2 separate regions of the Homo sapiens genome follow, and region 2 is linked to region 1. Evidence: fine-mapped expression QTL. Tissue or cell type: tibial artery. Region 1 holds a variant in brackets; the other region holds the start of a gene. All regions are shown on one strand. Distances are between the middles of the regions.

What was found. PIP is the estimated chance that this variant, and not a neighbour inherited with it, causes the effect.
Region 2: it holds the start of SIRT5, and the variant in region 1 is fine-mapped to the expression of SIRT5 in tibial artery (GTEx, PIP above 0.99). The same link has a PIP of 0.9 or more in amygdala, atrial appendage, sigmoid colon, subcutaneous fat, thyroid and whole blood.

What each region holds. Positions count from the first base shown.
Region 1 is chr6:13,667,438-13,672,914 of GRCh38, reverse strand. All of the region lies in intron 2 of RANBP9 (RAN binding protein 9), which reads left to right. Among named protein-coding and RNA genes, the nearest start is that of RANBP9, 42 kb to the left of the region's middle. The variant T/C (reference allele first, on the strand shown) is at 2,596.
Region 2 is chr6:13,571,814-13,577,290 of GRCh38, reverse strand. SIRT5 (sirtuin 5) reads right to left here and starts at 2,690. Exons shown (of 10, transcript NM_012241.5): 1 at 2,547-2,690. It overlaps LOC105374937 (a long non-coding RNA gene), which reads left to right and starts at 2,857. Exons shown (of 2, transcript XR_926497.4): 1 at 2,857-3,326; 2 at 4,070-5,219. RefSeq lists enhancers at 1,753-2,338, 1,928-2,407, 2,339-2,925 and a silencer at 2,618-3,137.

The DNA of each region.
Region 1 (5,477 bases):
GTCCTCCATTCTCAAATACCATGTTCCAGTTTTTTTTCAAGCTCACTGATTGTTGTTTTTTTTAGTCTGCTGATTGCTCGTCAAAGGCATTCTTTATTTGTGTTAATGCTTTTTATTTCTAGCATTTTGTTTTGATTCTTTCTTATAGCCCTTAGCATTTTAATGAGTTATTTAAAATGTCCAGTTTGATCATTCAAAATCTACCTTATCTGAGTTTGGTTTCGATGCTTGCTTTGTCTCTTCAGACCTTTTCCTTGCCTGTTACATGCCTTGCAATTTTTTGTTGAAATCTGGACATGGCTTATTGAGTAGTAGAAACTCAGGTAAACAGGTGTTTAATGTGAGATTTTAGGTTTATCTGGCTGGGAGTTAGGCTGTGTTTAATGTTCACTAGGTATTTATATTGTTTGTAGGTATAAGACATTTCATTTTCCTCTACTTTCCTGGTTTTTGTCTTGTTTTGAGTTTCCTTAGAAACTTTTATTAATTAAAAAAAGTCTATTTCTTGTAATTTTCTCAGTTGTAATCTGTTATATTGGAGCCCTGTTTAGTAGAGAGGAGAAGTGTTCTATAATCATATGATGAAATCTGTTGGGTTTTTTAGTGGACCAGAGTTCCTGAACGGACCTTCAAAAGAATTTCTTAAGCTTTTTTCTTCCCTCCTCTCAGGCAGGTTAGAGGGGGCTGGAATTATTGCTCTTACTCTAGGTCAGATTTCAAAATGGTTACTTTTCCCTTTTCCCTACTCAAAATGGAGGGATTTTACTCTAATAAAAACCAGGTGGAGCTCCTTTTCTCACCTATATTCTTCCTTAAGACTGAGCCCTCACAAGTTAAAGCTCAAGTTAGTTCACTCTCAGTCTCCAGCAGTTTGCTACTTACTTTTAAAGTGTTCCTTCCAGTTATTGGCTTTAGAGTAAATATAGCTCCATATGTCTATATTCACATGTTTCTTCAGTTTTTCTGGAGGTGTTGTGACCTGTGAACTCAGTTTTCCAGTGCTTCTAAGAGTAGTTGATTTTCAGTTGTTCTGCTTTTTTTCTTGTGAGGATGGGAGTGATGATTTCCAAGCTGTTTACGTAATAGAGTGGAACAAAGTTGTCATCTTTATTTTTTTAATGAGAGTTGTATTGAGATGTATAATTCATGTACATATTCACCCTTTAAAAATGCACAATTTGGTAATTTTTACTATATTCACAGAGTTATGCAACCCTTACTATTTAATTTTTAAACATTTTTGTCACCTGAAAAAGGAACCCCAAAACACTCACTCCTCCCAGTTCCAGGCAGCAACTAACTATTTTGTTTTTATGGATTTACTTATTCTGGACATTTCATATAAATGGAATTATACAAAATGTGACCTCTCGTTTCTGACTTCTTTATCTTAACATGTTTTAAAGGTTAATGTTTTAAAGGTTGATTTATGCTGTATCATATATCAATACTCCATTCCTTTTTGTTGCCAAATTAATATTCCATTGTATTAATATATCACATTTTGTTTATCCATTGGTTGGTGGAAACACTTTTTGACTGTTAAGAATATTGCTGTTATGAAGAATTGTGTAACATAGTATGGCTATGTGTTTTCATTTTTATTGCAGAAAATGGGAGTGTAATTTCTGGGTCATAGATACCCTATGATTAACTTTTTGAGGAGCTGCCAGACGGTTTTCCAAAGTGGCTGTACCATTTTACTTACTACCAGCTATGATAGTTGCAGTTTCTCCACATTCTTGTCAACACATATCTTCTTGATTCTAGCCATCCTAGTGTATGTAAAATGAGAGCTCATAGTGTCTTTTGATTTGCATCTCTAATTACTAATGATTAACATAGTTTTACTTGCTTATTGGACATTTATACATCTTTGAAGAAATGTCTATTCAGATCCTTTGCCCATTGTTTTAGTAGGGTTTTCCTTTTATTGAGCTGTAAGAGTTCTTTATATATACTGTAAAAAGTTACCCTATCAGATATATGATTTGCATATATTGTCTGCCATTCTGTGAATTGTCTTTTAGTTTCCTTGACAGTATCCTTTAAATCACAAAAATTTTAAATTTTATGGAGTCTAGTTTGTCTACTTTTTTTTTTTTTTTTTTTTCTAAGATGGAATTTTGCTCTGTCTCCCAGGCTGGAGTGCAGTGGTATGATCTTGGCTAACTGCAAGCTCCACCTCCCGGGTTCACACCATTCTCCTGCCTCAGCCTCCCAAGTAGCTGGGACTACAGGCGCCCACCACCACGCCCGTCTAATTTTGTTTTTGTATTTTTGGTAGAGACGGGGTTTCACCGTGTTAGCCAGGATGGTCTCGATCTCCTGACCTCGTGATCTGCCTGCCTCAGCCTCCCAAAGTGCTGGGATTACAGGCATGAGCCACCACACCTGGCCTAGTTTGTCTATTTTTTCTTGTGTTTCTTCTGCTTCTGATGTCATATCTAAGAGACCATTGTCTTAAGCCACTATCAGAAAGACTTACATCTGTGTTTTCATCTAAGAGTTTCATAGTTTTAGCTCTTCAGTTAGCTCTCTAATCCATTTTGTGTTAATTTTTATATATGGTGTGAGATAGGGATCCAGCTACAT[T/C]CTTTTTGAAAATATTTTTTTATTTTTGAGACAGAATCTTAATCTGTCACCCAGGCCAGAGTGCAGTGGCACAATCTGAGTTCACTGCAACCTCCGCCTCCCAGGCTCAAGCAATTCTAATGCCTCAGCCTCCCGAGAAGCTGGGACTACAGGCATGTGCCACTGCACCTGGCTAATTTTTGTATTTTTAGTACAGATGGGCTTTTGCTATGTCGGCTAGGCTGGTCTTGAACTCCTGACTTGAAGTGATCCACCCACCACCTTGGCCTTTCAAAGCGCGGGGATTATAGACTTGAGCCACTGTGCCCGACCTCAGCTGCATTCATTTGCATTTGTATGTTTTCCCAGTACCATTTGTTGAAAAAAAAAAAACCAGTTCTTTCCCCACTGGATTGTTTTTTCCTGCTTGTCAAAAATCAATTCATCTACCAGATGCTGTGGCTCACACCTGTAATCCCAACACTTTGGGAGGCCAAGGTGGACAGTATTGCTTGAGCCCAGGAGTTTGAGACTAGCCTGGGCAACATGGAGAAACCCTGTCTGTACAAAAAATGCGAAAAAAAGTTAGCCAGGCATGGTGGCATGCAACTGTAGTCCCAGCTACTCGGGGGCTGAGGTGTGAGGATCACCTAATCGGGAGAAAAAAGGCTGCAGTAAGCTGTGGTCATGCCACTGCACTGCAGCCTGGTTAAAGTGAGACCTTACTTGTCGCAAAACAACAACAATAACAAAATTAATTGATCGTGAATACAAGAGTTTCTGAAATCTCAATTCTATGGCATTGATCTCTATGTCTGTTTTTAAGCCAGCAACACATTCTCTTGGTTACTGTAGCTTTTTATTGAGTTTTAAAATTGGAATGTGTGAGTCTTCCAACTTTTTTGTTCTTTTTCAAGATTATTTTGGCTCTACTGGGCCCTTGCATTTGTGTATGATTTCAGGATCAGTTTGTCAATTTCTGCAGCAAAGCAAGTTAGGATTTTGATAGGGTTTGTGTTGAATCTCTAGATTAATTTGGGGAGTATTGCTATTTTAACAGCATTTAGTCTTCAAATCCATGAATATGGCATGGGGAGTCTTTCCATTTACTTAGCAGTTCTTTCATTTTTTCAACAATGTCGTTTTTAGTGTTCAGATTTCACACTTCTTTTGTTATATTTATTCCTAAGTATTCTTTTTTTTTATTCTGTTCCAAATGAAAGTATTTTCTTAAATTCATTTTCAAATTATTTCTAGTGTGTAGAAATACAACTGATTTTTGCATATTAATCTTGTATCTTGTAGTCTTGTTGAACTTGATTACTTTTAATAATTTTGGGGGAGGAGATTCTTTAGGATTTTCTATATACAAAATTGTGCCATCTGTCAATAGAGGATGCTTATTTCTTGCTTTCTGATCTGATGGCTTTTATGTCTTTTTCTTGCCCTCTTGCCCAGGGTAGAAGTTTCAGTACTATGTTGAATAGAAGTGGTGAGAGAAGACATCCTTTTTTTTGTCCCTAATCTTAAGGTCAAAGTATTCAGTCTTTTACCACTAAGTATGCTGTTAGCTGGGGATTTTTCATAGATGTTCTTTATCAGTGTGAGGAAGTTTCCTTCTGTTTCAAGCTTGCTGAGTCATGATTTTTCATGATTTTTTTTAAATCGTGAAAGGGTGATGAGTTTTGTGAAATTCTTTTTCTATGCCTGTTGAGATGATTATATGGATTTTGTTCTTTATTTTCTTAATATATTACATTGATTGATTTTTGTTTGTTAAACGAACTTCATGTTTTTGGGATATAAATCCCATTTGGTCATGATTTATAATCTTTTTTATGTGTTGCTGGATTTGATTTCCTAGTAATTTGTTGAGGATTTTTGCATTTGTATTAATGAAGGATATTTTTTCTGTAGTTTTTTTGTGATGCCTTTATCTAGTTTTGGTAACAAGATAGTACTGGCTTTGTAGAATGAGTTAGGAAGTATTTCTAGCTTTTTTGGAAGAGTCTGGGAAAGATTAATGTTAATTTTTATGTTTGGTAGATTTCCCCAGTGAAGCCATCTGAGCACGGGCTTGTCTTTGTGTTTTAAAATTACTATGCAGTTTCAGTAGTTTGTGTCTTTCTAGGAATTTGTCCATTTAAAGGAGGTTATGTAATTCATTGTTCATAGTATTTAATAATTGTTTTCTTATGATCCTTTTTAGTTTAGTAGTAATACTCTTGTAATTCCTGATGTTTAGTAATTTGAGTCTTCTTTTATTTTTCTTGCTTAGTAGAACCTACTTTTGAATTTGTTGATTCTATTGTTTTTCTAGTCTCTCCTCTTATTTCTCCCCTAATCTTTATAATTCCTTTTCTGCTACCTGCTTTGGGTTTAGTTCATTCTTAATGGTAGAAATTGGATTACTAATTAGAGATCTTTCTTTTTTATTTAATTTTAATTTTTGACAACAGTAACAAAAAATGTGTTGCGTAAGAATGGGGATACGTTCTGAAGAATGTGTGGTTAGGTGATTTTGTCATTGTAGGAATATCATAGAATGTACTTACACAAACCTAAATGGTATAGACCATACCACATGGCTTATTAAACACCTAGGCCATGTTGTGTGGTCTATTGCTCTGCTCCTAGGCTACAAAACTGAATAGCTTGTTATTGTGTTACAATAGGGAATTGTAACACAATGGTTTTGTGTATCTAAATACATCACATAGGAAAGATACAGTAAAAATGTGTGGTATAAAAGATTTAAAATGGCACACTTGTATAGAACAGCTCCATTATAATCTTATAGGACTATTGTTGTACATGCGGTCTGTTGTTGACCGAAACATTTGTTATGTGGAACATCACTGTAAATAGGTTTTTAAAAGTGTTTCTTGCATTGCCAGCATGTG
Region 2 (5,477 bases), 96 kb after region 1:
CCCATGTTCGCGGATTAGAAAAATTAATGGTTGTTAAAGTGTCCATACTACCCAAAGCAATCTACAGATTCAATGTAATCTCTATCAAAATTCCAATATCATTTTTCACAGAAATAGAAAAAACAATCCTAAAGTTCATATGGAATTGCAAAAGACCCTAAATAGCCAAAGCAGTCTTGAGTGAAAGGAACAAAGCCAAAGGCATCACACTCCCTAATCTCAAAATATATTATAGGGCCATTGTAATCAAAACTGCATGGCACTGGCATAAAAATCGGCACATCAACCAATGGAACAGGAATAGAAAGCCCAGAAATAAGCCCAAGTATTTACAGTCAATTGATTTTTGACAAAGGTGCTAAGAACACACAATGGGAAAAGGAAAGTCTCTTTAATAAATGGCATCAGGAAAACTGAATATCCACATGCTGGATAACAAAATTGAGTCCTTATCTCACACCATATACAAAAATCAACTCAAAATAGATTAAAGTCTCAAACATAACACCTGAAACTGTAAAACTAATAGAAGATAACATAGGTGAAAACTCCATATTAGTCTGGGCAATGATTTCTTGGATAGGACCCCAAAAGCAACAAAAGCAAAAATAGACACATGGGATTGCATCAAACTAAAAAGCCTCTGCACAGCAAAGAAAATAATTAACAGAGTAAAGAGACAACCCACAGACTGGGAGAAAATATTTGCAAACCATGCATCTGATAAGGGGCTCTTATCTAAAATATATAAGAAACTCAAAAAACTCAACAGCAAAACAAAACAAAACGAATAACCCGGTTAAAAAATGGACAAAGAACCTGAACAGGTATTCCTCAAAAGAAGACATATGAATGGTCAACAAATACATGAAAAACGCTCAACTTTGCTAACCACCAGGGAAATGCAAATTAAATCACACTGAGCTACCACCTCACGCTTGTTAGAATGGCTATTATAAAAAAGATCAAAGACAACAAGTTTTGTCCAGAATGTGGAGAAAAGGGAACCCTGGTACACTGTTGGTGGAATGTAAATTAGTACAGCCATTTTGGAAAACAGTATGGAGGCTCCTCAAAATCTAAAAATAGAATTACCACATGACCCAGAAATCCTACTTCTGGGTATATATACAAAGGAATTGAAATCAGTATGTTGAAGAGATAGCTGCATTCCTGTGTTGTTTTCAGCATTATTCACAATAACCAAGATATAGAAGCAACTAAGTATCCATCAACTGAGGACCGGATAAAGAAAATGTGGCACATATATACAATGGAATACTATACAGTCTTAAAACAGAAGGCAATTCTGTCATTTGCAACAACATGGATGAACCTGGAGGACATGAGGCCAAGTAAAATAAGCCAGGCACAGAAGGACAAACAGCACATGATCTTACTTATATACTTGGGGTCTAAAAAAGTTGAACTCATAGAAGCAGAGTAGAATGATGGTTACCAGGGGCCTGGCAGAGGGCTGATGTGGAAGGGAGGGATGTTGGTCAAAGGATACAAAGTTTTAGTTAGGTAAGAGGAGTAAGTTTTAGTGATCTACTGCACAGCATGGTGACCATAGTTGATGATGTATTGTATATTTCCAGGAGAGTAGATTTTCACCACAAAAAATAAGTAGGTGAGGTGATGGATATGTCAATTAGCTTGATTTAATCTTTCTACAATGTATACATATATCAAAACATTACACTGTACGCTATAAATATATAAATTTGTCAATAAAAATAATTATATAAATATATATTTATATAAAACAAAATACATGCTAAGGATAATGCAATGAACTGCAAAAAGTTGTACAGGCTCCCAATAAATAATTTTTGAACGCCTAAGAGCTAAATAAATGCAATACATCACTCCCAGGTGTCTCCACTAGGGGGCCCCATTCCCTCCCGTTCCATCACCTGCTTTCCTCAAGGTCGTCTCCACCCTCCTATTTGTTGATACCCGGCCTCTGACCCAGTTCATCACTTTCCCGGGCTTCCGGGCGCCACCCTCTTCAGGTTTTCCTCCTACCCCTCCAGCCCTGCCCCTCTGGATCTCCCATCCTCCCAGCGCGCCAGACTGCATGCGGCCTCCCCGCCCTGTGTCCAAGAGGCAGCTTCCACTCCACGCGGGCAAGCCTGAGCTCCAGAGCCGTCCTCAAGCCGCCTCCCCCCGAAGCACTGGGACTTCATCCTCCCGGCTACTACTCGTGCCCAGGGACTAGGCCCTGAGCCTTCCCTTCTCGCACGCCCCATAGCCAAGCTGCTCAGCAGAACCTGACGGCTCCACCTTCAAACTACGTCCGGAATCCGACCCCTCTCCACGCCCACTGCCTCCACCCCGGCCACCTTCCTCGGTCACCCTGGCAGCTGCAATGACCAGGGTGACCTTTCTGAAAAGGGAGGCTCTGTTCGGAGCCCTCGCGGGGCTCCCCAGCACAGCGGCCTCCCATGCCCACCTGCTCGGGTGGGATTACTTTCCAACCCCGTTTCCATCCCCCTCCCTGGTCTCCAGCCGCAGCGACCCCCACGCAGAGCCCGGAAGACCTTGGGCCCCGCACATGCTGCCGGCCCGCTAAGAGCTCTGGGTACCCCCGGAGCGCCTTCCAGGCTTTCTCCTAGAGGCGCTGTGTCCCGACCGCGCTCCGGACCTGAGCCACGGCTCACCTGGGGCAGCTCGCGCCCCCGAATACAGTCTCCCACGCCCCGCCCCCCGGGGTGCCTCCCTCCCAGCTCTCTGTACCCACCCACCATCCCCCACATCCCTTCCTCCAACCGCTAGCCAGTCACCAGCCCGGGACCGCAGGGCAGAGGCCGGGCCGCGCATGCGCACCGCGGACCGGTGCCACCTCCGCTCGCGAGCCCGCGGCAGGCCCTGGGCGGTGCGCGCAGTCCCGCGAGAGCAGTGCTTGGTCGGGACCTCGAAGCCGGAGCCCGAGCGGGAGAGGCCGCGGAGACCCCGGCCCGGCGCAGGCAGAGACGCACCTGCGGGAGGCGGGCGCGCCGGCTGGAGAGGAGGCCGTGGGGCGGAGCGGCTCAGCGTTCTGCTCGGCTGCAGCGGCCCCTGCCGGAGACCCGGGCGCCGTGGTCTTCTTTATAATTGAAGGATTGTCTCTCTGTTTTTATTTGGGGTGGGGGTGGGGGTGGGGGGCGGCGCAGTGACTTGCTTCGACTTTGTCAGCTTCCAGGGTTCATTCCACTGCCCAAATATGTAGTGAGTTACTACCGGCTTTGCTTCCTCCTTCAGCAAACGGCTGGACCACACAACTTCAGGAGAGAGGATTTTAAATGTTAGGGTCATTTTCCCTAAAACGATTTCAAATGACGGTGAGTTGGTTCCCAGGCTAGGCCACCTAACCTCGAACGCAATGACGAGTGCACTCTGACTGCTGAGCTGAGAGCCTTCCGTGGCTCTGGGACCCAGTGACTCACGTGGCTCCGCATGTCCCCGTTCCCTTAAAATCGGAGTCTTTCCTTTTCTTGGATTCCGGCTTGCCACCAGCACCACTTGGCAGAATGGAATTGCTTGCGGGCATGTCAGTGGACTAGAAAGGGAAGTAAGTGGTCTGAGAACTTGGGGGCCAAAAATGTTACATTAACATTTTTTGCCTACCTAAAATCTCAGCCACTTCCCACAGTTTGGCTGGAAATTCAGCCCATGTTGAGGCCCTTCTCATTCCTGCAGGTGTTACCAGCAACTCAGAGGTTTATGGAGTAACGAAATTGGGGAGGGCCTCACATCCGGCTGCTGTTTTTCCCCCTAACGTGTATGGTGCTTATTCTGAGCCAGACACTTTTAAGAACTGCACATTATTAACCATTTTAAATCGTCCCCACCACCTGATGAAATAGGTACTGTTATCCCCACTTTATGGGTGGGGAAACCGAGGCCCAGGGAGGTCAAGTAACTGCGCAAAGCACAAAACTGTTGAGTAGTAGTGTTACCAGGGCAGTCCTGGAGAAATCGCTCAGAGGGCAAAACTGAGAGCTCATTATTTTCTTAAACAGTAGACAGCTGAAAATGCTCATTGTTTTTTAAACCGTTTTGTTTGTTTGATTTTTTTTCCTAGTCTCTTTATCTATAGGTAACCCAGCTTAAAACAACTGCGGTTGGCCCGGGATCCTCACTGCCCTTTGCCAAGTACCAGAGAAAGATAAGGCCTACTAGGAACCAGAGAAAACCAGAACCAGCCACCCCTTGTTACTTTTAGATCATTAATACATCATTATATGCTCAACTCCCGACCCGTAGAAGAGAATCGCCGCCATTTTCTGATAGTGCATTGTATGAAGAGGCATGTTTATGAAATGCACCTGTGCGTCTAGAGTTCCTCCCGGCATATGCTTGCATACCTCCCCACTCCACATCTAACGCCTTACAATTCCCCAGCTTCCCAAAGCTCTGGAAGAAGGGGGTCTTTAGAGTGAAAGTTTACTCCTTCTCTATTCCTGGCCAGGAATGAAACCCGCTTGCCGTTTTTTCCAGTTGGTGTGCTTTCTTTGCAACTGATACAGACTAGGAAAAGAACGCAATTTACCAGTAACAGTAGAGCTGGGATTTAAATCTAAGTGCTTTGACTTCAAAGACAAGGTTCCAAGCTGCTACACATACCAATTCTCGTTAAAGTGTATTCCATTTCTTTTGTGCTTTCATATTGACCATTGTGTGTTAATCCTTTCAATTGGAAGAAGAGGGAGACAGTGCCAGTTATTGCAAACTTTCACAGTCCACAGGCCCGATATGTAGCCTTCACCACCCACAGGTTCTGCCACTTCTGGGGCATTATATTCCATCAAGATCCAGGCACCCGCCATCCACATACCAGCCCTGGAACTCGTCCCTTCTCCCAGACTTGGAAACGCCACCTCTCCCTGACCAATGTCGAGCCACTTCCTCATCTTGATACATCAGCCACTATCCTTTCCATCTTTCAGGCAACTCCAGCTTAATTTCTCGATGGCCTTGCCCTTCTAAAAGGCCGTTCTCTTTTCCCAGATGACTTTTTCCTATCCCCTCCACAGTAACTCCCCTCATCCTTCCAGTCTCAATTCAATTGTTCCTTGGTGGGGTGGGGCGGGGGGAGCCTTCTTAAACCCTCCTCCCTCACAACTGCATGAGGTCCCTTGTCTCTAATATAAGCTCCTGTAGCACCATGGCACTTATCCCAGTTGAGATTTTAAATATATTTCTGTGTATTTGATTAAAGTTTCTCTCCTCCACCAGGCTGTGAAGGTGGCTTCTTGTTTTGTTTTGCTCCCCGTGGTATTCCCAGCACCTCAGGATCCCTTATAGTAGATGCTGAATTAGTAAATACATATTAAATAAATGAATGAACAATCTCACAGGAAAAGCAGCCTCAAACTCAGAGGATAATGGCTTGGGCTATCTTTACTAAAATTTAAGAGGCGAATGACCTTTTCTTTCTGCTTATGAGTCTGTCTGTAGCAGCACAAAATAAAAAATAAACAAGCAAGATA